6 separate regions of the Homo sapiens genome follow, and regions 1, 3, 4, 5 and 6 are each linked to region 2. The links come from fine-mapping of genetic effects on gene expression. A gene starts in region 2. Each other region holds a variant in brackets. All regions are shown on one strand. Distances are between the middles of the regions.

Region 1 (5,073 bases), 210 kb after region 2:
AGGATAAAGGGCTGATACAGGACTTGGCTCCGGGAGCAGGGCGAGGAATGGAAGGTGGAGTACAAAGGATACAGGTCATGGGTAGATCTCCTGGCCTCAGTGATGTCTCCTGATCTATCTATGGGCTTGGAAGATTAATACTGGGATGATGATGAGCAGAATGGTCATGAGGATGCCCAAAATCAGGGCCCAGATGTTCAGGCACTTGGTGGTGGAGGCATAGGCCTGGGCCCCAGTCACGTTGCCAACCATCTTCCTGTCCCTAGACTTCACGGAGTAGGCAAATGCTATGAAGCCCAGGCAGCAGGGGTTCATGAAGAGGGTGTTGAACAGGGACCAGACGACATGGTGGGGCACGGAGGTCTTGCTGCGGATGTGGATCACGGTGGACGTTGGGGGAGCAGGGTTGTGGGGCACCCCCAGCACAGCCACCTTGTGCTCCTCCTTGAGCATCTCATAGTTGGGGGGCTGGCCGCTGTTGACAGGAGAGAAGAAGGTTTGGACAGTGTGGTTCATGGTGTCCAGCGAAGACCAGCCGTGGTTGAGTTACTGGGATGGTTCTCAGTGGACCCTCCCTTTCCCCAGTAGTTTTGTTTTCTCCATATTTGAAATTAAGATAACAATTACTTTCGTTTGCATTAGCCTAGTACAGGTTTGCCCATTTATCTTTTTTTCTCTTCATTTTCTGTCCTTCTGAATCTATTAGTTTTAGGTTTGTCTTTGTTTTTATGGTATTGAATTATTTTTTATTTGTGGTTCTATCTGACTTTTTCCCCTTTTACTAGATGAATTAAACTCATTTACAATTATTACAATTGTTTAAAATTTTTGATATGAAAGACATGTTTGGTCATGACTATATCATGTTATTTCATGTTATAATTCATGGTTTCAAAGTTAAAAATATTTTCGTATGTGAGATGTTTTCGTATGTGAGATGTTTTTGTTGTATGTCCATTTCTTCTGATAATTATGCATGTTTGTATTTTGTCAAATGTCTGATCTTCTTTCTTTTTTTTTTTTCTTTGAGATGGAGTCTCGCTCTGTCACCCAGGCTGGAGGGCAGTGTCGCGATCTTGGCTCACTGCAACCTCCTCCTCCCAGGTTCAAGCGATTCTCCTGCCTCACGCTCCTGAGTAGCTGGGATTACAGGTGTGTGCCACACCACCAGGCCCAGCTAATTTTTGTATTTGGTAGAGACGGGGTTTACCATGTTGGCCGTGATGGTCTCCATCTCCTGACCTTGTGATCTACCTGCCTCGGCCTCCCAAAGTTCTGGGATTACAGTCATGAGCCACTGTGCCCGGCCCTGATCTTCTTTCTTTAACCACTATTATCAATGCCCTATTCTGATAATTGCTAATAATTAAATTAGTAGCTTTCTTCTTCCTTCCACCTCCTTTTTCTCTCTACAACTTCTCAATTTTTGTTAATTATATTATGTTTCTTAATGTGTATATTTGTTCTGTTTAATAACAACAATCCCACATTTATTTTAGTTTTAAGCCAATTTACCAGCAGCGCTTATGCTATCTACCCAGTGCTTTCTAGTCATCTCTGGTTTGACAACATTTGTCCATTGGTGGATTCTTCATGTGAGTTAATACAAACAATACCCTTAAGATGTTGTGTTTTCAAAACTCTTTGGCTTTATATACATACATACATATGTATGTATATAAACAAATATATATATGTGTGTGTGTTTGTTTTGTCTTGTTTTGAGACAGGGTCTCACTGTGTCACCTAGGCTGGAGTGTGGTGGTGCAACCATGGCTCACCACAGCCTCAATCTCCTGCACTCAAGCGATCCTCCCACCTCAGCCTCCCAGGTAGCTGGAACTGTAGGCATGCATCATCATGCCTGGCTAAATTTTTTTTTAATTTTATTTTTATTAGGGACAAGGTGTCACCATGTTGCCCAGGCTGGTCTTGAACTCCTGGGATCAAGGAATCCTCCTGCCTCAGCCTCCCAAAGTGCTAGAATTAGAGACGTGAGGCACCACACCACCTACCTTTATATTTAAGCAACAGTTTGACTGCATACAAAATTCCTGGGTCACATCTCTTTGCTGGAGGATTTTATTGGTATGTATACATAATGTCTTCTAAGAACAAATGCTGTGGAGAAATCTGAAATCAGCCTGTTTTTCTCATTATAAGTGATTTATTCTCTGGCTTTTAAATAATTCTTTTTGAAATCTAATAATTTTATCAGGACATAGATTGCTCTTGACTACTTGGAATCTTTTTTAGTAATATGCCATTTTACATTTTTAGACTCGTTTCCTTTTTCTCTGCAATTTTTTAAAAATTATATTTTAAATTTGTTTCCCTGTTTCCTTATTTTTTTTTTCTTTGCTTTCAAGATCTGTGGGTATATGCTTCTCACCAGTTCTGGGAAATTCACAGCCATTATCTCTTTACACATTGCCTCTA[C/A]TCTTTTCTCACTATCTTTCTAATTGAAACTAAGTGTATGTTAAATCTTCTTGATGCAGAACTGCTGGGCTCCAGGCTAAACTTCACCCTCAAGCCTGGAACCTCAGTCCTAAGTGAAACAGCTGACCCCATTTTTTCCACCCAAATGATTGCTTTTTTGGCCCGCTCCACCCCCTGTCATATGCCTATAAATACCAGACCAGCTAGCAGAACAAAAGGAAGAAAAAGAGCAACCTCAGCAGCTGATGCAAGTGGTCGGGGATACAAGCTGCTGAGCATCAGGAATACATGCAGCTGAGCATCGGAAACTACAGATAGACACGGCTTCAGAGAAAGAGCAGTTTCTTCCCATACCATCCCCTTTCCAATTCCCCATCCTGCTGAGAGCCACTTTTATCACACAGTAAAATCTTCCATATACACTACCCTTCAAAAAGTTTATGTGACCTGATTCTTCCTGGACTCTGAATAAGAATTCGGGTGTCAAGAAGGGCAGGTGCAGAAGGCTGTCAGCCTGGGCTGTTAACACTTAGCCATCCACGGACTGCAGGCTGAGTGAAACAAGCCACTCCAGTTCCTGCCCACAAAGGGGGTCAAGGTCAAGACTTGACCTTGAACTATGAACTATCCTGTCTCATTCTCATCCTATCTTACATATCTTTTAACCTTTTTTTCATATTTTCCATTTCCTTGTTTCTCCCTGTGCATTCTGGATCAGTTATTTAGATATATTTTCTGGTTCACAAATTCTCACTTGAGTTATCTAATCTGCTAGTTCATCCCTCCACTGAGTTCCTACCACCACTTCCCCATCCCCGACCTCATTTTTTTTTTTTTTTTTTTTTTTTTTGTTTTGAGACGAAGTCTCGCTCTGTGGCCAGGCTGGAGTGCAGTGGTGCGATCTCGGCTCACTGCAACCTCCTGCCTCAGCCTCCCAAGCAGCTGGGATTATAAGGCGCACACTGCCACACCTGACTAATTTTTGTCTTTTTAGTAGGGATGGGGTTTCATCATGTTGGCCAGGCTTGTCTTGAATTCCAGACCGCAAATGATCCACCCTTCGGCCTCCCAAAGTGGTGGGATTACAGGCATGTGCCATCATGCCTGGCTAATTTTTGTATTTTTGTAGTGACGGGGTTTTGCCATGTTGACTGGGCTGGTCTCAAACTCCTGATCTCAAAGGATCCACACGCCTTAGCCTCACAAAGTGCTGGGATTACAGATGTGAGTCACCCCATTATATTTTTAATTCCTGGTTCTTTTTGGATTGTTTCCAAAATGTTTCTGTTCATTCCTGTTTCTAGTTGAAGGCTCACTTTTTAAATTATATACTTCTTTAAACACTTCATACACAGCTGTTTTATGTCGTATATATGTAATTATAATTCTAATACTAGAAATATTTGAGAAATCTAAATCAGTTGTTTCTGCTGACTCTCACAGTGATTGCCTTCTTGTGTGTTTGGTAATCCAGTTTGTGAGTTGATGGCTTCATCATAATCTGTGGGAGTCCTCTGTACCAAACTTGGAAAGTTCTCCTCCAGACAAGGTCGGTTTTCATTCCTGTCTGTAATGTTGAGGCTTAGAAACCAATTCCCCAAAATATGGCATGTTTACATCCTGAACTAAGAAGACTCAAGGTCTCTCTGATCTACCCACCCCTCACCAGCTCTTCCAAAGAGGCTCAAGTTCCTTTACCTGCCTAAGCTCCAGACCCACCAAGGAGAACAATAGTTTTCTTCCCTTCCCTGGGAAACCTGCCCAATTGTCCTGTAGAGGTGATGTTTATGGTTCTTTTTAATAAACATAGAAATTTATCCTCCTGGTCTTAAAACTTGAGAAAATTACATCTGTCTTATCTGAGTTGCTTTCTCAGAAAAGAAACCATCAGTCCTCCCAGACAGTATCAAGGAGCTGAAACTTACCAGATCATCACATCTGGACAAAGGGAGCCAGACGCCTCACCAATCATGACTGCCTGCTTCCTGTTGACCCCTTTCTCTTCCTTACCCCTCCCTAAAATTCCCGTTTTTCCACACATAGTTACATTTCTTCCCTGCTATACAAATCCCAAATTTTAGACAGTCAGGGAGTTGGATTTGGGACTGATCTCCCATCTCCTCTGCTGCAGCACTGGATTACAGCCTTCTTCCCTGGCAATACTCATTGTCTTAATGATTGGCTTTCTGTGAGGGGAGCAACAGGACCTAGACTGAATCTTGGGTGTTTTGGTAACATCTGTAAGACCGAAAATGTAACCACACCTAAACAGACCCTTTTTCAAGATAATGACTGACTCTCTCCAAGGATCATTTAAATTCCAAAGAGAACTACCTACAAGTTAATTTCTGTTCCCTGATCCAGTCATTCTCCCTAGCAATCATTTATTACCCCTCATCTAATCTAATCCCAAACCCTAAATCTAATAAAATACTTCTAAAATCTGCACCCCTAATGCCCTCCCACACTCAACCATTCCACTTACTTTGTAATTTAGAGAGGCCTAAATTTTGTTAAAATAGAGGCACAGCTAATAGATGTTTGTTACACTTACTTTCTTTCCCTTTGACATTTTCATCTACCAGGCATGATTACGTAACATAGTCCTTTTTTTTTTTTTTGTGATGAAGTCTT
Region 2 (5,073 bases):
GTCCCAGGCCACAAAATCTATTTCCTCTAACATGACAATAGCTAACATTTATTGGGCACTTGCCATGCATCAGGAGCTGTTTAACTGTGATATGCATGAAACTCATGTAACTCTACCATAACAATCCTATGACATTAGTGCTTGTCCCCATTTTATAGATGAGAGAACAGGCAGAGGTTTATTTTCCAGGGTTGGCTGAGTGCTACAGCCAAGATCTGAACCAAAGCAGTGTGGTTACAGGGACCATGGTCTTAATCATTAGGTGAGACTTCCTAACACACTTTGTGGTTACAGATGAAAGCCCTGGACATGATCACTTTGGCTGCACGGGAAGCATCCTCCCAGAGTGGTGCTCTGCGCCACATTCCCCTATGTGCCACCAACAGTAATAAAATATAATAAAAACAATCAAATAAACACAGCACAGACAGAAGCAGACCTCTGCCCAGGTAACTTCCACCACAATTCCCTTACCAAAGACCTCTTTCCTTATTTTGCTAAGATTAACAACTGATTTTTCAGTACTATGCCAACAACATTTCTTCTCAAGCTTTGCTGTCAATTCCATTGTGACCCACAGTTTAATTTAAAACCGATGTTGATTCACTGAGCTAGTAATTTTATTCGGTAATAGGTGAATTACTCCATAGTTGAGTGTGAATAACCGCCTGGTTAAATCAGGGCGGGTTTCTTAGAGGTGATACACTTACCGTTGAGCACAACTTTACTCTTTAATTATCGTGTACATTCCCATTTCCCTCCAAACACGTCAGTCCCTCTCCACACAGTGTTTACTTCTTTGGTCCTAGGGACAGCAAGAAACATTTTATAATAAAAGAGCACATGCTAATGTGTTTACTAGATATGACACTGCTGTGCAAAACTGTTTTCTTTTATGGCTGCACTGAAAGCATGCTAAGTTTACTGAATTCTTATTAAGTGTCCTAAGTAACAGAAATAGAAACTAGGTCTGGCCTGAAAATACCATTCACTTAAGTTAGAATTTATGTGCGCTCCTCTAGGTCCGCTATTGTAGTATCACTGCAAAACAATAATACTTTATCTCTGCACTTGTCTTTATTGGATTAATATTAAACAGAAAAAAATCCGACTGCACAGGGGAAAAAACCTAAAACCTTAACATGCATGCACATTAACAGTGACTGAAACATGATTAAAGCTAACACATTTAGCAGAAAAATGCAATCCCCAAACAAGCTCTGCGGCCCGCCTACTGAAATGCACCCGCCCGCCACTAAATGAAAATGCGCCTCAAGCTCATACACATCCTTATGTTAAGACAGTATGCACTCGATGTACTACAAATAAATTGTTTTCACGGAAATGATTCCCCGAAAGTTTGCTGCTGAACTCAGGACCCTAAGGACGTTTGCTTAGGGAATCCGTGTCCCTCGAGAACACCTAAGATGGGTATGCGTTTGTGCATTTAAAAATGCCTCAAGGAACTATTGCTGAGGAACAGAAACCATCGCCGGCGCAGAAGCGTTCGCGGACCACTTGGAGATAGATGCCAGTACAGCAATTCTGTTCCAGGAGGCTTCGGCTTAAGAGGGCCGGGGAGGAGGAGAACCCTCGGGAAATAGCAAAAAAAAAAAAAGATTTTTCTTTTTCACTCCAGCGACAGGAAAGCCTTAAAAACATAAGCAGCTCTCATACCCACCCGCCTCACCAGCCGCGCCTCGCAGTTCGACAAAATGCGTCCTAGCCTTCGCCACTCGCGACCTCTACCGCGCAGAGCCAGGCAATGAGGGAAAACAGCCAGCGAGGCCCGCCCTCCGGTGCAAGGCTCGGCATCCGCGGAGGCCCAGGGCCGGCCCCGGTGCGGCGGGCAGAAGCAAGCGCGGCGGCCCGGCCCAGCTCCGGTGGGCGGACGGCGGGACGCGCGAGCCGGCGGGGCCCGAGGCCCGGGTTCCGGGGCCGCCCGCGACTGCGTCTTTGCCGCAGAACAAAAGCGCTCTGCGCCGCGCGCAGGCCCGGACCGCGAGTGCCTCTGGCTCCCGGCTCCCGGCCCCCGCCCCGCCCGGACCCCGGAAGGCGGAGGGACCTCGGGGTGCTCGTCTCACACTTACCGACAAAGGGAAGAGGACCACCCCGGCAAGCGGGGAGAAAACCGGCGGCCTCCCGGGCCCCAGAGTTTAAGTCAAGTGGGGTCCGCCTCCAGGGGCGGGTCGAGGAGCCAGGCCCAGGATCCAGGAACAGCTACGCTCCGCCTCACGCCCGAGGCGGTGGCTGCGAGGGCCGCGCCGCCGCGGTCCTAGTGCCACCAGAGAAGCCGCGGACCCGGCCCGCAGATAACACCCGGGCTTGCAGAGCGCTTTCATCTGCCCGACGCGGAAATCTCCTGCAGCGATCTTCTACCTTCAGCGTGCATCCGCAGCACCCAGAGGGCACGTTAAAGAGAGATTGAGAACCACCAGCAAAACTGCTGATTCAGTAGGTTTGGGGTGGGGCTGAAAAATGTGCATTTCTAACAAGTTCCTGAGACCGACTGTTGCTGCTGGCCTCAGGACCAATTTTTTCTATAAAGCGCATGGAAGTCAGAGTGCACCCAAGAGATTGTTAACCCTTAAAAAACAGAAAAAAAAAAAAGAAATCAACAAGTTAGAGGCAAATAAGTGTGAAAGAAAGTGGATAGTCTATTTGGGGATTCTGAAAGTCCCTGAGGAAAGTTGACTTTGGAGACCAGATCACGAAGCACGACCTCTTAATTGCCGACCTTTTGTTATAGATTAACTCCCTTATTTTCTTGTTCCCAGCTCAGACCAGATGGCATCTGAGATAAAATACGCATTGAATAAGATAAATGACCGCTTGACTATTACATCCTTAATGTGGAATGTTAAATAGACCCTTCCCAAAAAGAAACACTGCCTTGAACCAATCAAATTGCTATGCGTTAACCTTCTATGGAAAATGTTGACATCCTGTTAAGCTTCCCAGACCCTGCCTGTGTAAACGACCCTCAAACTTCTCCCTTTCGAAGCACTGACCCCCATCTTTTGGAGTCTGTGTCCTACCGGGTCGCCATCCTCAAACTTTGCACTCAAATAAACCAATATTTAATCATATTGCCCGAATCTCATTATTAAGGTTTACGTAAGCGTTTACTTAGTAATGAAGGTTGCAACCAGGATGGCAAATCAGAGATTGTGCCACTGGAGAGGGGCAAGGGAGCTTATGTTTATAGGAATTTATTTGTTACATAAATTGTCAGATTAGTTCATTGGTGAATTAAACGAAGAAGTCTTTAGTCATTACTAGAAGAGTGCGTTTGCGTCTGTCAGAAACAAAACAAAAAAACTACATACAGAATATTCTTTCTTTTTTGGGGGGGGGACGGAGTCACGCTCTGTCGCCCAGGCTGGAGTGCAGTGGCACGATCTCGGCTCACTGCAAGCTCCGCCTCCCAGGTTCACGCCATTCTGCTGCCTCAGCCTCCCAAGTAGCTGGGACTACAGGCGCCCGCCACCATGCCCGGCTAATTTTTTGTATTTTAGTAGAGACGGGGTTTCACCATGTTAGCCAGGATGGTCTCGATCTCCTGACCTCTTGATCCGCCCGCCTTAGCCTCCCAAAGTGCTGGGATTACAGGCATGAGCCACCGCGCCCGGCCAGAATATTCTTAAAGATTGGGGGTGGCCAGGTGTGGTGGCTCAGGCCTGTAACCCCAGCACTTTGTGTCACGCGCATCCGTGTGAAGAGACCACCAAACAAGCTTTGCGTGAGCAACAAGACTGTTTATTTCACCTGGGTGCAGGCGGGCTGAGTCCGAAAAGAGAGTCAGCAAAGGGTGGTGGGATTATCTTTAATTCTTATAGGTTTTGGGAGAGGCTCCGCGGAACAATGTTTTGCGGGCAGGGGGTGGATCTCACAAAGTACATTCTCAAGGGTGGGGAGAATTACAAAGAACCTTCTTAAGGGTGGGGGAGATTACAAAGAACCTTCTTAAGGGTGGGGAGAATTACAAAGAACCTTCTTAAGGGTGGGGGAGATTACAAAATACATTGATCTGTTAGGATGGGGCAGAAACAAATCACAATGGTGGAATGTCATCAGTTAAGGCTATTTTCGCTTCTTTTGTGGATCTTCAGTTGCTTCAGGCCATCTGGATGTATACGTGCAGGTCACAGGGGATATGATGGCTTAGCTTGGGCTCAGAGGCCTGACAGTTTGGGAGGCTGAGGTGGGTGAATCACTTGAAATCAGGAGTTTGAGACCAACGTGACCAACATGGTGAAACCCTGTTTCTACTAAAAATATAAAAATTAGCCAGGCGTGGTTGTGGGCACCTGTAATTCTCAGCTACTCGGGAGGCTGAGGCGGGAGAATTGCTTAAACCCAGGAAGCAGAGGTTGCAGTGAGCCGAGATCACGCCACTGCACTCCAGCGTGGGCCACAGAAAGAGTCTGTCTCATGAAACAAAACAAACAAAAAAAGATTGGGGATCAGGCGTGGTGGCTTATGCTTGTAATCCCAGCACTTTGGGGAGGATCACTTGAGGCCAGGAGTTTGAGAGAGCAGCCTTGCCAACATGGTGAACCCAATCTCTACAAAAAATATACAAAAAACAAAAAAAATTAGCCAGGAGTGGTGGCATGCGCCTGTAGTCCCAGCTACTTGGGAGGCTGAGATGGGGGGATCACTTGAGCTTGGGAGGCAGAGGTTGCAGTGAGCCAAGATTGAGCCACTGAACTCCGGCCTGGGTGACAGAGTAAGAGCCTGTCTCGGAAAATAATAATAATAATAATAATAATATTGAGACCAGCTTTCTTGGGTTGTGTGTTGTTGCAAAAACGGTTGTGTTAGATATGAATTCTAAATTTCTCTTCAAAGAATCAATATGTCAGTATGGTCAATCTTTGCCTTTTACTTTTAAACTTAACTTCCTCGTAAAGCAACCTTTTTCCATCACCTGCTCCACCCTGACTCATTTCAATCACCTGCTCCACCCTGACTCATTCCGATTTCCTGCCCCGCCTTAACCATTTTTCCTGCCAAACCGCTCACCCCATCACTCTCTTTAAATTAGCCAATCAGAATTAGTTTAGCCTG
Region 3 (5,073 bases), 230 kb after region 2:
GGTACGGTGGCTCACGCCTGTAATCCCAGCACTTTGGGAGGTCGAGGTAGGTGGATCACAAGGTCAGGAGTTCGACACCAGCCTAGCCAATATGGTGAAACCTCGTCTCTACTAAAAATACAAAAAAAAAAAAATTAGCCTGGCATGGTGGCACATGCCTGTAATCCCAGCTACTTGGGAGGCTGAGGCGGGAGAATTGCTTGAATCCGAGAGGCAGAGGTTGCAGTGAGCCGAGATTGCGCCACTGCACTCCAGCCTGGAGTAAAGTAAAACAAACCCACAGCAACAATCTATGATAACGTTTACTTTGTATGGTAGCTATGGTAGGAAGTGGAGGAGATTCTGAGCTAGAGGAAACTATATTAAAGTGGGCACAGCAAACAGAGAGGAGAAAAGGAAAATATCTTGCCCTTAGCCTAACCCTGCCTACAAATCACTTACCATACACTAGAAAAGACTTTCATTCCCAATAACTTTGCATTCAAAGATAAACCATGAATAGCGGGAACCTCCTAAAAGCCTTGACTAACGGGAAATCCTAAAAGCTTTGCCTCCAGAGATAAGCCACAAAAACAAGAACATCCTGTTTTCCTTACCACAAAACAGGAACATCTTGTTCTTATCCAATTGGAATGAACTGCCATATCTGAGCTATAAATATCTGCCATTTCATCTGAGCTATAAATTCCTCTATTCTATTTAGCGAGCCACTCTCTGAAAGTCTGATTTTCTTGAACTGCAAGTAAAAATGTCTCTCTGTGCTCATATTTGTCTTTGATTTTTATTTTGACATAGGGTTCCTGAACTGATTTTTGGGGGGGGGAATCCTGAAGTTGGACGCACCCAGGGCTGGCTTCATGGGTGGGCAAAATGTGCAGTCACACGGGCCCCACTCTGGGTTTAGTGCTCTGCTATCACCATCTTAAAATTCGTAATTTCTTTGTTTTTTTTGAGGTAGAGTCTCACTCTTGTTGCCCAGGCTGGAGTACAGTGGTGTGATCTCGGCTCAGTGCAACCTCCGCCTCCTGGGTTCAAGCAATTCTCCTGCCTCAGCCTCCTGAGTAGCTGGGATTACAGGCACCTGCCACCACGCCCAGCTAATTTTTTTGTACTTTTAGTAGAGTTTCTCCATATTGCCCAGGCTGGTCTCGAACTCCTAACCTCAGCTGATCCGCCCACCTTGGCCTCCCAAAGTGCTGGGATTACAGGCGTGAGGCATGTGCATTTTAGCTTTCTAGATCAGGTGAGGGCACATGGACAAATGGCTCAAGGGTCAAATCCAGTCCACTGTCTGTTTTTGTATAGCTTGCAACTTAAGGATGGCTTTTACATTTTTCAGTGGCTGAAAAAGATCAAAAGATGAGTATTTCATGACAGTTGAAAATTACATAAAATTCAAACTTCAGTGTTTAGGATAAGGTTTTATTGGAACAGAGACCCACCCATTCATACTGTCTATGGCTAATTTTAAGATACAAGTTGAATAGCTGTGACCAAGCCAGCATGACCCACAAAACCTAAAATATTTCTTGTTTGGCTCTGGGAAGCTAAAAGACAACAAAGAAAGAATTCTCCAAAGATACTGAGTTTCTTTGGGAGTGAACAAAAAGAATTATAATCCAAGATGTACAGCTATGGCAAGCCACGGGTCTGGAGAAGGGAAGAATAGGGGGAAGATTTTACTGGTAAAGGAGGGAAGTTCACATAAACTCTTGGAAACTAAGTTGATTGGTTCCCAAGGCTCAAATCAAGAATTGGAGTCCGTTCATTGGTGGAGGTCCTGCTGCTGGGCCAAACGTCCTTTCGACAGTATCTTATCTGAACTGCTGCAGTTTTAAAGAATATTTAGCAATAAATCTTGTCATAGAAATGTGCGCATATTTGCAAAACAAGCAAGTTGTGCAAAACATTAAATGCATGAAAGATGTGAAGAAATTGTGGGTTTTTTGGTTTATTTTTTAAAGTCCTTGAGGCAGTTCGTTCTTTCTTTTTTTTTTTTTTTGAGACGGAGTCTTGCTCTGTCGCCCAGGCTGGAGTGCAGTGGCACGATCTCGGCTCACTATAACCTCCTCCGAGTTCAAGCGATTCTCCTGCCTCAGCCTCCTCAGTAGCTGGGATTACAGGCGCCCGCCACCACACCCAGTTTTTTTTT[T/CTTTT]TTTTTTTTGTATTTTTAGTAGAGACGGGAATTTCACCACGTTGGCCAGGCTGGTCTCAAACTCCTGACCTCGTGATCCGCCCGCCTCGGCCTCCCAAAGTACTAGGATTACAGGTGTGAGCCACCGCGTCTGGCCTTGAGACAGTTCTTATCTCAGACATACAAGCATGAGTTTCCTTCCTTTCTGGTCTCTAGGCTCCAATTTGTCTGGGTCTGACAATAGTTACTTCTCCTGGAATCTGCAACTTTCAGAGCACTTTATGGAAAAAGTCGGCCAACCCCTGCCCTACACTCACTCTTGATCACTCTCCAGTGTAGCCATCCCAAACTATTTGCAGACCACCCTTTTCTCTCTGATCTGTATCCCACCCCCATGGGTGCTTCCATAGAACTAACCCCATCTAAGCATTTAACAGTTATTCTAATTGCCCTTTTACTTGTCTGACCCAAGTGTTCGCCACTCAATCCTCAGCACCCAGCACGATCCCTAGCCCTCGTTCAGCGCTTAATAAATCCATGTTGATTCAATGTGTAGCATCCTGAACAGGCAACAGCAGTGGGTTCCAACTTTCAAGGAGCTTAAAAAAGGAACTCAGCATACAAACAACAGACTAATCTACAAGGAAGAATGAGGGGGGTGGAGGGAGCACTAAAAAGCAGCAAGTACTCTGCAGCAGAACCAAAGATAAAATTCCACCTAAAGGTGCCCTTTCTTCAGGATCCTTCCTAATTTGAATACAGGTTCCCTTCTCCTCCATGACGAAATTCTTAGTGAGGTTACTTGTTGGTACGCAGTGTCCTCATCTGTAAAATAAGGCTAAATAATTACGATTTCACCGGATTATAATGAATATGGTTAAGTATTGAACTAAGGCCTAGAAAGCACGTAGCTCAGTGCACGCTTCCTAGAAAGTGCTCAGTAAACTCGGATCCTCTAACACGCTCCGTTTGATGTTAATGGAGTCCGTATCCGAGCGGGTCTCCAGTGTGCATCGCCAAGGGTATGGCCCAGCATCCAACGCATCCTTTTAGTAAGAGTAGCGACTTCTCAGCGCTCCCTTCGCCCCAGGAGAGTTCTCGGCTCGCGGCGTCGCGGCGGGGCTGCGCGCTGGGCTGAACTCCCAAGAAACCTCCTGCAGCTGAACCGGAGCAGACGCCCGCCAGGTGAAAGAACTACAACTCCCGTCACGTTGCATCCGAGTTTAGGGCCTCTTTATAGTTTATCACACCCAGCCTCTTCCGCGCAGCCCTCAGTGGCTCCGCCCCAAAGGGGGCTCTCTTCTTTCCTTGTGGAGTCCGAAGCGTGGCCACGCCCCGGTCACCGGAAAAATCCGTGTGACGTCACAAAAACCTACGCGTCGCGCGGTGGGCGGGAGTTGGCGGACGGTCCCTGGCTGGGTTCTGGAGGCCCTGGGACCGCGGAAGAGGCTTCAGACGCTGCAGCGATGCCTCGCCCACGGCGGGTCAGTCAGCTCCTGGATCTGTGAGTCTACCCTGTCCCGCCTCCCTTCGCGCCGCCCCAGCACCTCCTCCAAACGGCCAGGCCCTGCGCTGCTCTTCCTCCCCGCCCCTTTCCCACCCCCCCCGCCGACCTCTGAAGAGGCCCCGCGTGTGTTTCTGTCCCTGGGTTCCTGATCTGTCGTTTCCTGGCTGAGGACAGTTGTGCAAAGTGGGTCTCTTGGCGGGCTTGCCCCTCCAACACTCCGCTGCGCGATGAGCGTCCATTCCTCCGTCAGCCTTGACAGCTCGGCGCCCCGGCTGTTACTGGCAGTGGCCTCTCTCTTAGCAGCTAAAAGCCTTGGTAGAAAAAAACACAACGCTAGATGAGGTTCTCAAAAGCTTCTAGCAGAATTCCACCCCTGTAACTGGAATAAACATTGACAGACCCTGGGATAAAGGTAACAAAGTGGTTAAGACCACGGATCCCTGGCTGAGATTGCTGGGTTCAGCCCCCGGCTCTGCCATTCACCAGCCACGTGACCATGGACCGGTAACGTAACCTCTCCCTGTGCCTAGGTTCTTTATCTATAAAATTTTTGTGATAATAGCACCCATCACATGGAGTTGTCCTGAGGGATAAATTTAAAACATGTAAAACCCTTATAAGGATGCCCAGCAAATAATAAACACCACTAAGTGTTATTGTTATTATTATTTCCTACCAGAAATTGTACGGAAATGGAAGTTACAAGGGCAATTGCGTCTCTCCAGGAGCTTTCAGTCCGTTAATATTGCCATGTAAAAAATAGACATCTTAAGGATAAGGAGAACAATCTCCTTAATCTACTGAAGGCTTTCTGAAACAATGGCATCTGATATTTTACATTAAACTTGGGAGGCCGAGGTGGGAGAACTGCTTGAGCTCAGGAGTTCGAGACCAGCCTGGGCAACGTGGCGAAACCCCGCCTCTACTAAAGATACAAAAATTATCTGGGCACGGTGGTTCACGCCTGTAATCCCAGCACTTTGGGAGGCCGAGGCACTTGAGATCAGGAGAGTTGGAGACCAGCCTAGCCAGCACGGCAAAACCGCGGCATGTACTAAAAATACAAAAATTAGCCAGGAGTAGTAGTGGCGCCGGTAGTCCCAGCTACTCTGGAGGCTGAGGCAGGAGAATCGCCTCAACCCAGGAGGCAGAGGTTGCAGTGAGCTGAGATCGCGCCACTGCACGCCTAGGCTGCTAGGCGACAGAGCGAGACTGTCTCAAAAAAATAAAATAAATAACTATAATATATGTAGAATAATATCACAAGCGGGAGAGTAACAAACTTTTGAAATTTCTAATAAGGAAAAGAATAGGAGAAAGCTTTGTCAAGGGGGTTATTTTTGAACATTGGTAGTATCTGACGGTTGCAAATGGGAGGAAATGTATCGTAGAGAGTGAAATAAAAAGAGTAAAGGTTTGACAGGCAGGAAAGGTA
Region 4 (5,073 bases), 190 kb after region 2:
AGCGAGTTTAAAGTTTTCTTCGTTTAGATTTTGCACATTTATTGTTAGATTATTCCCAGAAATTATTTTTCTGTTGCTATTGTAAATAGATGTTTTTGAACTGCTTATTGTTTGTATATATGAAAATGATTGATTTTGACTGTTAATGTCATGCTAGTCCACCTGAATTCTCTTATGATCTATAAAATTTTGTGTTTTTCTCTCAGGTTTTTCCATGTATATAATCCTATCATCTAGAAATAATTTATAAAATTACCACATCCTTTCCCTGTAAAACCATTTTTTCCCTTTTCTAAAAGTTTAATTCTGTTATAATAAACTTAAAACTTAACCATATTTTTGAGATATAATTCAAGCACAAATAAATTTCACCATTTTAAAGTGTGTAGGTCAGTGATTTTTAGTGTAGTCACAAGGTTGTACAACCATCACCACTAGTTTCAAAACATTTTTATCATCCCAAAGTGAAACTCCGTAGCCATTATTAGTCACTCCTCATCCTTCCTTCCCCCTAAGCTCTGGCAGCCACTAGTCTATAGTTTGTCTCTGTGGATTTACCTATTTTGGACATTTCCTATAAAAAGGGAAGCTTTTTGTATATAGCTTCTTTCAGTGAGTACAATGTTTTTGAGGTTCATCTATGTTTTAGCATCTTTCATACTTCATTCCTTTTTATGACTAAATAATACTCGATTTTATGGATATACCACATTTTGTTTATCCATTCATCAGTTGATTAACATTTCAGTTGTTTCCTTTTTTTGCTATCTTATATGAACATATGTTTTCAATTCCCTAAGGTACGTACCAAGGAGTGAAATTGCTCATCATATTAGTAATTCTAGGTTTAAGTTTTTTTTTTGTTTGTTTTTGAGACGGAGTCTCCCTCTGTTGCCCAGGCTGGAATGCAGTGGCGCGATCTCGGCTCACTGCAAGCTCCACCTCCTGGTTTCTCGCCATTCTCCCGCCTCAGCCTTCCAAGTAGCTGGGACTACAGGTGCCTGCCACCACGCCCAGCTAATTTGGTTTCTGTATTTTTAGTAGAGATGGGGTTTCACCGTGTGGCCTCATGATCCACCTGCCTCAGCCTCCCGAAGTGCTGGGATTACAGGCGTGAGCCACCACACCCGGCCTCTAGGTTTACCTTTTAAAGGAACTCCCAAACTGTTTTTTTACTACCATTTCATATTTCTACCAGCAATTTCCATGGGTTCCTATTTCTCCACAACCTCATCAACACCTGTAATTGTTTTAAAAAATTATTATACGGCTGGGCCCAGTGGCTCACACTTGTAATCTCAGCACTTTGGGAGGCTAAGGCGGGTAGATCGCTTGAGGTTGGGAGTTTGAGACCAGATCGGCCAACATGGTGAAATCCTGTCTCTACTAAAAATTTAAAAAATAGCTGGGCATCGTGGCACATGCCTGTAGTTCCAGCTATTCAGGAGGCTGAGGCATGAGAATTGCTTGAACCCGGGAGGCGGAGGTTGCAGTGAGCTGAGATGGGATCACACCACTGCACTCCAGCCTGGGCTACAGAGTGAGACTCCATCTCAAAAAAAAAAAATTAAAAGTTAAAAAAATTAGAGTAGCCATCATAGTGGGTATGACTTAGTATCTCCTAGTTTTGATTTGTAATTCCCTAATGATTAGCAGCATTGAGCATCTTTTCATATGCTTATTGGTCATTTGTTGTCTTCTTTGAAGAAATGCCTATTCAAATCCTTTGTCTTGGCCTGTGGATGGCTCATGCCTGTAATCCTTGCACTTTAGGAGGCCGAGGCAGGCAGATCACTTGAGGTCAGGAGTTCAAGACCAGCCTGGCCAATGTGGGGAAACCCCGTCTCTACTAAAAATAAAAAATAAAAAATAAATTAGCTGGGCGTGGTGGCGGGCGCCTGTAATTCCAGCTACTCTGGAGGCTGAGGCAGGAGAATCACTTGAACCTAGGAGACGGAGGTTGCAGTGAGTGGAGATTGCGCCACTGTACTCCAGCTTGGGGGACAGAGCAAGACTTCATCTCAAAAAAAAAAAAAAAATCCTTTGTCAATTTTTTAGTTGGGTTGTCTTTTATTGCTGAATTGTTAGAGTTTTTTATATATTCTAGATACAAGTTCTTTTTTTTTGAGACGGAGTCTTACTCTGTCCCCCAGGCTGGAGTGCAGTGGCACGATCTTGGCTCACTGCAAGCTCCGCCTCCCGGGTTCACGCCATTCTCCTGCCTCAGCCTCCCGAGTAGCTGGGACTACAGGCATGCGCCACCACGCCCGGCTAATTTTTTGTATTCATAATAGAGACGGGGTTTCACGGTGTTAGCCAGGCTTGTCTCTATCTCCTGACCTTGTGATCCACCTGCCTCGGCCTCCCAAAGTGCTGGGATTACAGGCGTGAGCCACCATGCCCGGCCAATTCAAGTTCTTTACTAGAATGACTTGCAAATATTTTATCCTTTTCTATAGGTTGTCTTTTCAGTTTCTGGATAATGTCCTTTGTAGCACTAAAGTGTTTAATTTTGGAGTAGATCAATTTTTCTATTTTTTTCTTTTATAGTTTGTGTTTTTGGTGCCATAACTAAAAAAA[CA/A]TTACCTAATCCAAGGTCACAGGGATTTACATCTATGTTTTCTTCTAAGAGTTTATAATTTTAGCTCTTATGTTTAGGTCCTGATCCATTTTGAGTTAATTTTTGTATATAGTGTATGGTACTCAGGTGCCAAATTCATTATTTTGTATGTAGATATCTAGTTGTTCAGAACCATTTGTTGAAAGATTATTCTTTCCTCCATTGAACTGTCTTGGCAGCCTTGTTGAAAATCAATTGATGCAAGAGTCTGGGTTTATTTCTGGACTCTCAATTCATTGTCCTCAACTACATGTCTATTCTTATGCCCATACTACAGTCTTGATATTATAGCTTTAAGCAAAGTTTTGAAATGGGGAGGTGTGAGTCTTTCAATTTTTAACTTTTTCAAGATTGTTTTGGTTATTCAGGGCCCCTTGCAGTTCTATATGTATTTGAGGATCAGCTTTTACATTTCTGAAAAAATTAAAAATGCTGTTGGAATTTTGACAGGGATTGTGTTGAGTCTGCAGATTAATTTAAGAAGTACTGATATCTTAACAATATTAGATATTCCAATCCATGAAAACAGATGTTGTTTCAACTAGTCTTCTTTCTTTTTCTCTTTTTCTTGCTTCTCTTTTTGGTTTTCAGTAGGATCTTGCTCTGTCACCCAGGCTGGAGTACAGTGGCGCGATCATAGCTAACTACAAACTCAAACTCCTGATCCTCCTGCCTCAGCCTCCTGAGTCATCTCTTTCAATGATCTCTTTTTCAGTATGAGTCATCCATTTCTTTTGTTTGTTTGTTTCTTTTTTTTTTTTTTTTTGAGACGGAGTCTCACACTGTTGCCTGGGCTGGAGGGCAATGGCACGATCTCAGCTCACTGCAACCTCCACCTCCCGGGTTCAAGCAATTCTCCTGCCTCAGCCTCCCGAGTAGCTGGGATTACAGGTGCCCGCCACCACACCCAGCTAATTTTTTTGTATTTTTAGTAGAGATGAGGTTTCACTATGTTGGCCAGGCTGGTCTCGAACTCCTGACCTCATGATCTGCCTGCCTCGGCCTCCCAAAGTGCTGGGATTACAGGTGTGAGCCACCTTGCCTGGCTGAGTCATCCACTTCTTTTGTTAAATTTGTTGCAAAGTATTTTATTATATTTGATGGTATTATAAATGGAATTATTTTCTTAATTTTATTTTTGGATTGTTCATTGTTACTTTATAGAAATACAACTGATTTTTGTATATTGATCTTGCATTGTTGCACCATTCTGAGCTTGTTTATTAGCCCTAATGGATTTTTTGTGAATTGTTTAGGGATTTTTATCTCATCTGCAAAAAAAGATAGTTGTCCCTCCTCTTTTCCAACCTAGATGCCTTTTATTTTATTTTCTTGCCTAATTGCCTTGGCTAGAACTTCCAGTTCAATTTTGAATGCAAGTGATGACAGCAGGCATTGTTGTCTTGTTTCCAATAACTTTTAACTTCTAATTTTCCCCCAAATATAAAGATAAACACATTAGATAGAAAAATATTACTGATAATAGTAGTCATCATTATTTAAAATCTTTTGTTAATGGGAGTACTTCTAATATTTTCCTTTGAACATAAGCTGTCTTGAGGTTAAAATAGATTCATATTAAGGAAATGTCTTCTATTCTTTTTTTTTATTTTTCAAATTTAATTAAAAAAATTTTTTATTTCCTCATTCTTGCTGTCAACTTATATTCTTATTCTTTTATGATCATTTTTGATTGAAAAGTAGATGGGCCAGGCACTGTGGTTCACATCTATAATCCCAGCATTTTGGGAGGCCGAGGCAGATGGATCACTTGAGGTCAGGAGTTCGAGACCAGCCTGGCCAACATGGTGAAACCCCATCTCCATTAAAAATACAAAAATTAGCAAGGCATGGTGATGCATGCCTATAATCCCAGCTACTTGGGACACTGAGGCAGGAGAATCACTTGAACCCAAGAGGCTGAGGTTGCAGTGAGCTGAGCTGAGATCGCACCACTGCACTCTAGCCTGGGTGAAAAAGCGAGACTCTGTCTAAATAAATAAATAAATAAATAAATAAATAAATGTTAAAAGGTTTTTTTTTTGTTTTTTTTTTTTGAGATGGAATCTCACTCTGTCGCTCAGGCTGGAGTGCAGTGGTGTGATCTCAGCTCACTGCAACCTCCACCTTCCAGGTTCACGTCATTCTCCTGCCTCAGCCTCCAGAGTAGCTGGGACTACAGGTGCCTGCCACCACGCCTGGCTAATTTTTTGTATTTTCAGTAGAGACAGGGTTTCACTGTGTTAGCCAGGATGGTCTCAATCTCCTGATCTCATGATCTGCCCACCTTGGCCTCCCAAAAGCTTTTAATCAAATTATTTTTCAAAGTCTGTTGAGTTGATTGTCCTTGGGTCTCTTTATAAAATAGATTTCCTAATAATTTATTATCCTTGTATTTCTGAAATAATCCCCATTTTTGTCCTTTCATTCTTGTAAGGTATTACAGGATTCTT
Region 5 (5,058 bases), 290 kb after region 2:
CTCTGATGTAGTGAAAAACGGGGTAAGTATGCTAACTTTCTTGTATATGTTGGGGGGTACTTATTCAACTCCATTTCTTGTCCTTACAAGATTTATAAATGTGGTATGTTTATAGTGTGGATATATATGTTGCCACTGCAAAGGTGGTGCATATGTATATATGTGCAAAATGGGTAAGGCCTGTTCTAACTATGAAATTTTTCTAAAGACAAATTCAATAAAATTTAATACTGAATATTTAACCAAGTCAATCACATTTTCCCCTTTTTGCAGAAACTAGTTTCGACATCTAAATTGTGAGCTTCTTTGGGTCTATGAAGGATTTATCTTCCTAAAACAGTTTGCAGTTTGATATTTCTCCTTTTTTATGTTGCTAGCTGTATTAACTATTTCTCACCACTCTGTTTAAAATATCTGTACCCCATCCAGTACCCAGTATTCCCTATTACCCTTACTTCTTTTTCTCCTTACTACCTATCACCATCTGATGCCTGTTTTCATTTGTTCATTATGTCTCCCTACTCTAGAATACAAATTTCATAAGGACAAAGTATTTATCTTTTTTTTTCATTGCTGTATCCCCATATCCCCAGTGCCTAGAACAGTGCCTGGTATATAATAAGCACTCAAATATTCATTGAATAAGTAAATATGGAAAGAAATAAAGGAGGAAAGAAAGAAATACCCAGTAATACCCAGCCTGGCCAATGTAGCAAGACTCCATGTCTACAAAAAATACAAAATAAAAAAACTAGCCAGGCATCATGGTGGTGCATGCCTACAGTCCTAGCTACTAAGGAGGCTGAAGTGGGAGGATTACCTGAGCCTAGAAAGTCGAGGCTGCAGTGAGCACGGTCGCATTGCTGAACTCCAGCCTGGATGAGAGAGCAAGACCTGTCTAAAAACAAACAAAACAAAACACCCAACAACAACAACAAAAATTTCCAGTCTCTAGTCTGATTTATATTTTCTAATATAAAGAGATTGGAAGTCATCATTCCCATCCTCACAATAAGAAAAAAGCTCAATAAACTGAAAAGTCAACAACACTTAGATCCATTAGAGAATTAAGGTTAAAGAGAGAATGCCTCACAAATTAGAAACGCAAATACAAAGAACCATAGCTTACAGGGAGCAGAAGCCTGTTGCTGGAGCCAGTACCAATAGGAACATTTATGCTGTAATTCCTGAGTTGCTGGAGGCTCCATGTGGATGGACTTAAGAATCAAAAGCTCCAGCCTGGCACAGTGGCTCACACGTGTAATCCCAGCACTTGGGGAGGCTGAGGCAGGTGGATCACCTGAGGTCAGGAGTTCGAGACCAGCCTGGCCAACATGGCGAAGCCCTGTCTTTACTAAAAATACAAAAATTAGCTGGGCATGGTGGTGCATGCCTGTAATCCCAGCTGGGTTTGGTGGTGTATACCTGTAATCCCAGCTACTCAGGAGGCTGAGGCAGGAGAATCACTTTAACCCAGGAGGTGGAGGTTGCAGTGAGCCAAGATCACGCCATTGCACTCCAGCCTGGGCAATAAGAGTGAAACTCTGCCTCAAAAAAAAAAAAAAAAGAATCAAAAGCTCTAGGAATCTGTCCATAAACGTTATCTAACCAGGTGTGGCAACCCTGCAGTCACTCTGAACCTATTCTGCTTTTGGGAGCTGCCCAATTCACAGATTGTTCTTTGCTCAATTAAACTTTGTTAAATTAAAACAAACAAACTCCAGGGGGCCCACTCCTAGGGGAGACACCACACTTTCATAGTTTTACCTCCAGGATACCTACCAGGTTCTCAGGGTGAGGATCAGAGAAAAATCCCCTCTTCTGGTATGAGGATAGGGAAAGTAACCATTTTGAAATATGCCCAAGTGTTCAGTTCTCCTTAACAAAAGCCAGTTCTCAAGGGAAACTATTTTACCAGAGCCTCGTTGACCTGGGGGAAAGGAAGCACCCAACTCCAGCTGCCTCTAGCCTTCCTGTCTCACCAAAGTGACAAAAGAAAAGCTGAAAGCACTTGTGAAGGTCACAGCAGGGGCACAGGCTGACTTAACTGACTGAGACTTAATCACAGGACTATAGAACATACCTTCTCCCATACCTTATCACATCAGTTAGGCTACTGTATAATAACAGGGAATTACAGGTGAAAAAAACTGCAAGCTTCAGACTCTATATAAGAAGGAATCTCTAGGGAAACTCAAAGATAACAGAGGAGACAATAGCCAGGACACTAGAGGAAAATTTAGCCTGTAATATCTACTCTACAGCAAACAGTAGCCCTACCCAGATTTTAAAACCTCATGCTACCTTAGTTTACTTGTTTATTTATGCAATACATCATGTCTAGCTATCAACAAAAAATTACAAGGCATGCTAAAAGACAAAAAAACAGTCTGAAAAGAAAACAAGCATCAGAACCAGACTCAGTTATGGCAGACATTTTAGAATTACCAGATCATAAATTTAAAATAACTGATTAACATGCAAAGGGCTCTAATGCGAAAAGCATACAACACGCAAGAATGATGGGTGACGTAAGCAGAGATAGAAGCTATAAGAAAAAATCAAAAGGAAGTGATAGAAGTAAAAAACATCGTCAGGCTGGCGTGGTGGCTCACACCTGTAATCCTAGCACTTTGGGAGGCCAAGGCGGGTGGATCACCTGAGGTCAGGAGTTTGAGACCGGCCTGGCCAACATGGCAAAACCCCGTCTCTACTAAAAATACAAAAATTAGCCAGGCATGGTGGTGCACACCTAAAATCCCAGCTACTCTGGAGGCTGAGACAGGACAATCGCTTGATTGGGGGAGGTGGAGGCTACAGTGAGCCGAGACATGAGTCACTGCACTCCAGCCTGGAC[G/T]ACAGAGCTGAGACTCCATCTCAAAAAAAAAAAAAAGCCCAGAGTTCAAGGCTGCAGTGCCCAATGATTAAGCCTCTGAATAGCCACTGCATTCCAGCCTGGGAGCAAAGTGAGACTGTCTCTAAAAAAAGAAAAAATATATATATAGTCTTCTTCTGTTTTGTTTTGTTTGTTTAATTCAAAGTTACATCACAGTTGTCCTCGACTACAGAAACAGATCCAGCTACAATGTTTAATTCTTCTCCATTACTTAAATTAAATGCTGCCACCATTGAGTATGGCATTGTATAATCATATTCCTTCAGCGGTTAAAATAGAAAAAAAAATGCAGATAGAGATGTGTATAATTGGCATGCATAGAAATACAGAACCAGTTACATGACAAAAGTAAACAAAACTCTAAACCTTCATATTTTAAAAACAAGATTTTCCATTTAACAAGAATTACATTCATTAAACTGGAGAGTATCTCCTATAGAGAAAACTTTTAGAGTCAGATCCAAACATTACTATATTCATACTTGGAAGCACTTTGACAACTCAAGGCTGAAAACCCCACACTGTGCTTGTTGTCAGTCCACTGTTTTCCTGCCTAGTAGACTCCAAAAGTGAATATTCTACCACTTTGTGCAGGTGATGCTGAATGCTGTGTCCACTGAACTGGGGCCGCCCAGGGTCACCAATCAGTACTCGAGTTCTATAGGTCCAGAAGCACTTCTTCAGCCACTGATGAAGACTATCTGCAAGGTCTTCATCATAAAACATATCGCCAAGAACAACAAGGTCCCACTTATCTTGTTCCAAATTCAAAATGTTTTGGATTAAAATAGGAAAAGGATTCAGTCTGTTCAATTCACAATTTAGTGTAATAGCCATTCCTGCAACTTAAAAAAAAAAAAAGCACAAAATGAATTGGTATATGCTAGGCTGTTATAATTCCATGTTGATTAAATAATTTAGAAGATCTGCTAACAATATATTTTTCTTCCTTTTTGATGAAAGTTGTTTTTTAAAGTAGAGAAGTATAAAGGTTATCCCAATATAAGCTATACCACAATTTCCAAATACATGACTGGATATCCTGAAAACAAACAATTCAAAACACCTAGAAATGCTGGGACTTTTAGGAATATTTGCTGATTTCATTAACCAAAAGATTTTGTTTTTTTACTGTGGACAGGGAAACGAGACTTGGGCTTGATTGAGCATGGCAATAAATTAGAACTGAGACCCCTTGGCTGGGCGCAGTGGCTCACGCCTATAATCCCAGTACTTTGGGAGGCCGAGGCGGGTGGATCACCTGAGGTCAGGAGTTCAAGACCAGCCTGGCCAACATGGTCAAACCCTGTCTCTAATAAAAATACAAAAATTAGCTGGGCATGGTGGTGCATGCCTGTAATCCCAGCTACTCGGGAGGCTGAGGCAGGAGAATCACTTGAACCCACGAGGTGGAGGTTGCAGTGAGCCAAGACCGTGCCACTGCACTCCAGCCTGGGCAATAGAGTGAGACTCTGTATCAAAAAAAAAAAAAGAAAAAAAAAGAACTGAGACTCCTTTATAAAATAAAGGTTTTCAGCCAGGCGCGGTGGCTCATGCCTGTAATCCTAGCACTTTGGGAGGCCAAGACGGGCAGATCACGAGGTCAGGAGATTGAGACCATCCTGAATAACACGGTGAAACCCCATCTCTACTAAAAATGCAAAAAAAAAAAAATTAGCCAGGCATGGTGGCAGGCACCTATAGTCCCAGCTACTCAGGAGGCTGAGGCAGGAGAATGGTGTGAACCCGGGAGGCGGAGCTTGCAGTGAGCTGAGATTGTGCTACTGCACTCCAGCCTGGGTGACAGAGGGAGACTCTGTCTCAAAATAAATAAATAAATAAAATAAAATAAAGGTTTTCAAGGACTATATTCTCAGTGAAAGGGTAGACCAGAAGAAAATCAGATCAAATAAAAACTTACCTGTCTCAGCCTGGGTTCTAATGGAATAAAAATAACCCTCAAAGACAGGTCAATACTCACTTGGGTTTGGGGTCAAATAAACACTATTTACATATTTCAGGAAATTCCTAGCCCATAAATTAACATAAGTGCTTACTCTGGATGTCTGGCAGACACAAATCCTCTTGGGAAAAATGCACCATCTACTCAGACCTCAGGGGATTCCTACAGATAATGTCCCAGTGCACAGAGATTCACAATG
Region 6 (5,073 bases), 35 kb before region 2:
GTCAGCTCACTGCAACCTCCACCTCCCAGGCTCAAGTGATTCTCCTGCCTCAGCCTCCCAAGTAGCTGGGATTACAGGCATGCGCCAACACACCCAGCTAATTTTTGTATTTTTAGGAGAGCAGAGGTTTCACCATATTGGCCAGGCTGGTCTCGAACTCCTGACCTCAGGTGATCCACCCGCCTTGGCCTACCAAAGTGCTGGGTTTACAGGTGTGAGCCACTGTGCCCGGCATCATTTTTTTTTATACTGCATTTTTACAGTAGCTTTTCTATGCTTGAAGACCCAAATACTTAACTATTGTTATAATTCCCTACAGCATTCAGTACAGTAACATGATGTCCACATTTGTAGCCTATAAGCAATAAGATACACCATAGTGATTAGGTATGCAGTAGGACATCTAGGTTGACTACACCTTATTAGAGATACTTGGGACTGAAAATATTTCAGATATTTTTGGATCTTGGAATATTTGCATTATACTCACCACCTAAGCATCCTTAATCCAAGGATGCAAAATCCAAAATGCTCAAATGAGTATTTCCTTTGAGTATCACATTGGCATTCAAAGTTTCAGATTTTGGAACATTTTGGATTTTATTCTTTTTTTGAGACAGAGTTTTGCTTGTGTTGCCCAGGCTGGAGTGCAATGGCGTGATCTCGACTCGCTGCAACCTCCGCCTCCGGGGTTCAACCAATTCTCTTGCGTCAACCTCCTAAGTAGCTGGGATTACAGGGATCTGCCACCACACCATGCTAATTGTGTATTTTTAGTAGAGATGGGGTTTCACCATGTTGGTCAGGCTGGTCTTGGAACTCCTGACCTCAGGTGGTCTGCCCGCCTTGGCCTCCCAAAGTGCTGGGGTTTACGGGCATGAGCCACTGTGCCCAGCTCTGGATTTTAGATTTAGGATATTCAACCTGTACCATCTAGGTTTACACAAACCTAGTACATTCTAGGATAGTCACACAAGACCAAAATTGGCCAGGTGCAGTGGCTCATACCTGTAATCCCAGCACTTTGGGAGGCCAAGGCAGGCAGATCACCTGAGGTGAATCAATCTTTTATTTTGGCATGACAATATTTATAGATTTTTACTATTTAAAAAATGAAGTAGGCTGGGCGTGGTGGCTCATGTCTGTAATCCCAGCACTTTGGGAGGCTGAGGCGGGCAGATCACTTGAGGTCAGGAGTTCAAGACCAGCCTGGCCAACATGGTGAAACTCTGTCTCTACTAAAAATACTTTAGCAAGGCATGGTGGTGTGTGCCTGTAATCCCAGCTACTCGGGAGGCTGAAGCAAAATTGCTGGAGCCCAGGAGGCGGAAGTTGCAGTGAGTGGAGATCGTGCTACTGCACTCCAGCCTGGGCAAAAGAATGAGACTCCATTTAAAAAAAAAAAAAAAAATCACCTAGAGATGTATTTCTCAGAACATATCCCTGTCATTAAATGACAGAGGACCGTAGTTGTTTCCTAAAGGTTGGTTGTAATATGAAAGCTAAAAGCACAAAAAATTGCAATGTTTCATTAAAATCCATTGGTCTACCTTGTACATAGTTTTCAAATGAAAATTTTATATATATATATACAACATTAAGATTTTATAAAAATAACCAACATGCTCTGGGCGTGGTAGCTCACATCTGTAATCCCAGGACTTTGGGAGGCCAAGGCCAAAGGATTACTTGAGCCCAGGAGTTCAAGACCAGTCTGGACAACAGGGTAGAATCTCATGTCTCCAAAAATGTATGTATTTTTAAATTATGTGCTCAGGGTTGGGCAAGATGGCTCACGCCTGTAATCCCAGCACTTTGGGAGGCTGAGGCAGGCAGATCACGAGGTCAGGAGTTCAAGACCATCCTGACGACCAACATGGTGAAACCCCGTCTCTACTAAAAATACAAAAATTAGCTGGGCGTGGTGGCGGGCACCTGTGATTCCAGCTATTCGGCAGGAGAATCCTTGAACCCGGGAGGCGGAGGTTGCAATGAGCCAAGATGGCGTCACTGCACTCCAGCCTTGGCGACAGAGCAAGCCTCCGTCTCAAAAAAAAACAAACAGGCTGGACCCAGTAGCTCATGCTTGTAATCCCAGCACTTTGGGAAGCTGGGGTGGGCGGATCACCTGAGGTCAGGAGTTCGAGACCAGCCTGACCAACACGGTGAAACCCCATCTATACTAAAAATACAAAAATTAGCTGGGCGTGGTGGCGGGCGCCTGTAATCCCAGCTACTCTGGAGGCTGAGGCAGGAGAATCGCTTGAACCCGGGAGGCGGAGGTTGCAGTGAGCCCAGATCGCGCAATTGCACTCCAGCCTGGGTAACAGGGCGGGAGTACGTCTCAAAGAACAAACAAAAAAACCACAAAAATTCTCCAAACATTAAGAAACAAAAACAAACAAACAAAAAAACAAAATTATGTGCTCACTTTGGCAGCACACTAGAATACAAAGATTAGCAAATTAAATAATTTTTTTTTAAATTAGCCAGGTGTATTAGCACACTGTAGTCCCAGCTACTCATGAGGCAGAGACGGGAAGATTATTTAAACCCAGGAGCAGTGATTGCAGTGAACATTCATCCTACACCGCAGTACTCCAGCCTTGACGACAGAGTGAGACCCTGTCTCAAAACAAAAACTCCAACCCTTTTCTCGTAGTCATAAAGTAAAACTAGAAATAAAGTTATATCTTGCCTTCCAGTTTCTTGAAATTTCCTGAACCTAGTAAATTTTTTTGTGTTCTCATGTGAACGCAATCTAAAAATACCTACTGGCACAACTGCTGTGACATTTCAGCTTTTTTTTTTTTTTTTTTTTGAGAAGGAGTCTGGCTCTGTCGCCCAGGCTGGAGTGCAGTGGCGCGATCTCGGCGCACTGCAAGCTCTGCCTCCCGGGTTCACGCCATTCTCCTGCCTCAGCCTCC[C/T]GAGTAGCTGGGACTACAGGTGCCTCCCACCTTGTCCTGGTAATTTTTTGTATTTTTTTTTAAGTAGAGACGGCGTTTCACCGTGTTAGCCAGGATGGTCTCCATCTCCTGACCTTGTGATCCGCCCGCCTCAGCCTCCCAAGGTGCTGTGATTACAGGCATAAGCCACCTCGCATTTCAGCTTTTGAAAGCACTTTCCAAAATGCGTCCTTTTAAAGGTAGGAAACCAAAAAGAAACTGAGCTGTGAAGGTTTCAAATTAGTTTTTTAAAAAATAAATGTTTATTTCAAGTATGAAAAGTAATGTTTAAACGTTGTCCCAAAATTGTGTTCAGTTTCACAAGTATAAAATAAGACTTCTGAAAAAAAGTTTACAATTAGTTATAAAACACTTAAGAATATATTTTGACATTCACATCACAGTGGGCATTTTTGAAAAATAAATTTTGCTAATATAGCTTAGAAACCAAAACATATTTACAGTCCCATTTAAATAAACAAGTCCTTAACTGAGGAACGGTCCTCCCTCAAGATGGGTAGAATTTCAAATTGATTTGTATAAGCATTCCTTTTAAAATAATGGTAAATCTGGTTCAATAAAGTAGAAATTCAAATACCTTGTTTCCCCGGTGAATACCATCCATTTCTTACACATGGCTACCCAAAGTTCTCAAGCCATTTTAATTAAGCACTTTCAATGAAATACAATGAAAGTGGGAACCAAACTCTGAGAAATCTTTATCATGGCATTTCTCATTAGTTTCAGCGAAATATTTTGAACAGAAAAGGAAAGAAATTTCCCAGTGGCAATTACAAAACCACATCTTGTAATTATTTTACAGGACTGCTACCAAGGCTTCTGCTTCTCTTCTCCAGGTACATCTGTTTGTAGGTTTGAAACATTTCTTTTGAATCTTTTACTGGGTTTTGTAGCATCTCAAATCCATCTGCACTGAAGCTTCTCTTCGAGAGTCTTGAATTAACATTATCTAAGGGAAATAAAAACTTTACTTACTTTATTTCTCAATGTTAGCTGTGATCAATATATAATCAAAATTCAGAGGGAAAATATATATTGGAGGGATAAAAAATTAAGGCAAGGAGTTAAGCAAAAGTTTCAGAACCATAGCTCTTCACTTATAGAATTGTAAGTTATATACACGTGACATCTTGCCTTTCTTTTGGGGGCTGTTTTCTACTCCTGCCTCCTTGCCCCATCCTCATTGCCCTGGGCTGTTCTGTTCTACCTTACTCTTGGCTCAATAAAATGTATCATTGCATATCATTAGTATGAATGTGATCTTTTAAACAGCTATGTAAATTAGCAATACAAAGAGTACAAATATGAGTCAGTCCCAAACAATACATGAAAAGGATAGGTTTCATATTTTGGTCTTGCCATGTATTGGATATTCTAAAACATGTCTATAGTTTCCTGTTTCTTGAGACCATTTCAGTGTTACATTAGCTTCAGTGTCCTTTTTTCATAATGACCCATCACCTATTGAAAATATGTTGAGGCTGGGTATGGTGGTTCACGCCTGTAATCCCAGCACTCTGGGAGGCCAAGGCAAGCAGATCACATGAAGCCAGTTCAAGACCAGCCTGGCCAACATGGCGAAACCCTGTTTTGACTAAAAATACAAAAATTAGCTGGGCAGAGGTTGCAGTGAGCCGATATCACACGACTGCACTCCAGCCTGGGTGACAGAGCGAGACTGTCTCAAAAAACAAACAAACAAACAAACAAACAGAATTGCTGTATGGGTATGCGAAATACACTTTCTACTGAATGTGTATCACTTTCATACCATCACAGTCAAGAAATCCTAAGTCAAACCACTGCCAAGTCAGGGACTATCTGTACATTTCATTCCTGCTGCAGCTATTTTCTTCTGAATAATGGGGTCTTGTTTTGTCTTTTTCTACCTGAATGGGTGGAGTATTCTGTCCTGTTAGTTCTTTAGATCTGCTGCAGTCTTCCACTTTTTCGTTTGCTTTCTTTCAGAATTAGTAACACTGAAGCCCCAGATGGGTCTCTAAGTTGCTTTCCAAGAAATTCTTGTCATTTCCTCTTCATCTCTTTACCCTAACTTAGGACTTCAAGTTTGCTGCAACCTTTGCTACTGAATTTAGACATCTGTTTC

Alleles and levels. Positions count from the first base shown, and alleles are read on the strand shown. Sizes are in standard deviations (SD) of each study's normalised expression. Not every link is listed here.
As copies of T replace CTTTT in region 3, the expression in skeletal muscle of the gene that starts at base 2,167 in region 2 goes up (moderate effect, 0.56 SD a copy in FUSION).

What was found. PIP is the estimated chance that this variant, and not a neighbour inherited with it, causes the effect.
Region 1: its variant is fine-mapped to the expression of RESF1 in whole blood (INTERVAL, PIP above 0.99).
Region 3: its variant is fine-mapped to the expression of RESF1 in skeletal muscle (FUSION, PIP 0.95).
Region 4: its variant is fine-mapped to the expression of RESF1 in whole blood (TOPMed, PIP 0.95).
Region 5: its variant is fine-mapped to the expression of RESF1 in whole blood (INTERVAL, PIP 0.99).
Region 6: its variant is fine-mapped to the expression of RESF1 in whole blood (TOPMed, PIP above 0.99).

What each region holds. Positions count from the first base shown.
Region 1 is chr12:31,750,163-31,755,235 of GRCh38, reverse strand. LOC105369724 (a long non-coding RNA gene) reads left to right here. Exons shown (of 4, transcript XR_931501.3): 2 at 1,900-2,088; 3 at 3,883-3,988. It also overlaps the pseudogene IFITM3P2. Among named protein-coding and RNA genes, the nearest start is that of AMN1-AS1, 23 kb to the right of the region's middle. The variant C/A (reference allele first, on the strand shown) is at 2,440.
Region 2 is chr12:31,956,509-31,961,581 of GRCh38, reverse strand. RESF1 (retroelement silencing factor 1) reads right to left here and starts at 2,167. Exons shown (of 6, transcript NM_018169.4): 1 at 2,091-2,167; 2 at 711-805. It overlaps LOC105369725 (a long non-coding RNA gene), which reads left to right and starts at 2,278. Exons shown (of 2, transcript XR_931503.2): 1 at 2,278-2,454; 2 at 2,778-3,089. RefSeq lists a silencer at 1,857-2,196 and enhancers at 3,249-4,042, 4,046-4,545.
Region 3 is chr12:31,727,533-31,732,605 of GRCh38, reverse strand. AMN1 (antagonist of mitotic exit network 1 homolog) reads left to right here and starts at 3,585. Exons shown (of 7, transcript NM_001113402.2): 1 at 3,585-3,635. The coding sequence starts at 3,598. AMN1-AS1 (AMN1 antisense RNA 1) reads right to left here and starts at 3,341. Exons shown (of 1, transcript NR_198987.1): 1 at 1,402-3,341. It overlaps LOC105369722 (a long non-coding RNA gene), which reads right to left. Exons shown (of 3, transcript XR_931497.3): 3 at 3,716-3,949. RefSeq lists enhancers at 3,077-3,276, 2,672-3,304, 3,317-3,666 and a silencer at 3,717-3,796. The variant T/CTTTT (reference allele first, on the strand shown) is at 2,153.
Region 4 is chr12:31,761,527-31,766,599 of GRCh38, reverse strand. No RefSeq gene overlaps it. Among named protein-coding and RNA genes, the nearest start is that of H3-5, 28 kb to the left of the region's middle. The variant CA/A (reference allele first, on the strand shown) is at 2,581.
Region 5 is chr12:31,666,330-31,671,387 of GRCh38, reverse strand. ETFBKMT (electron transfer flavoprotein subunit beta lysine methyltransferase) reads right to left here. Exons shown (of 4, transcript NM_001135863.2): 4 at 1-3,741. The coding sequence ends at 3,398. It overlaps AMN1 (antagonist of mitotic exit network 1 homolog), which reads left to right. Exons shown (of 7, transcript NM_001113402.2): 7 at 1-246. Among named protein-coding and RNA genes, the nearest start is that of ETFBKMT, 9.2 kb to the right of the region's middle. The variant G/T (reference allele first, on the strand shown) is at 2,858.
Region 6 is chr12:31,991,220-31,996,292 of GRCh38, reverse strand. It overlaps RESF1 (retroelement silencing factor 1), which reads right to left. Exons shown (of 6, transcript NM_018169.4): 6 at 3,186-3,915. The coding sequence ends at 3,758. Among named protein-coding and RNA genes, the nearest start is that of RESF1, 34 kb to the right of the region's middle. RefSeq lists a silencer at 2,241-2,405. The variant C/T (reference allele first, on the strand shown) is at 2,928.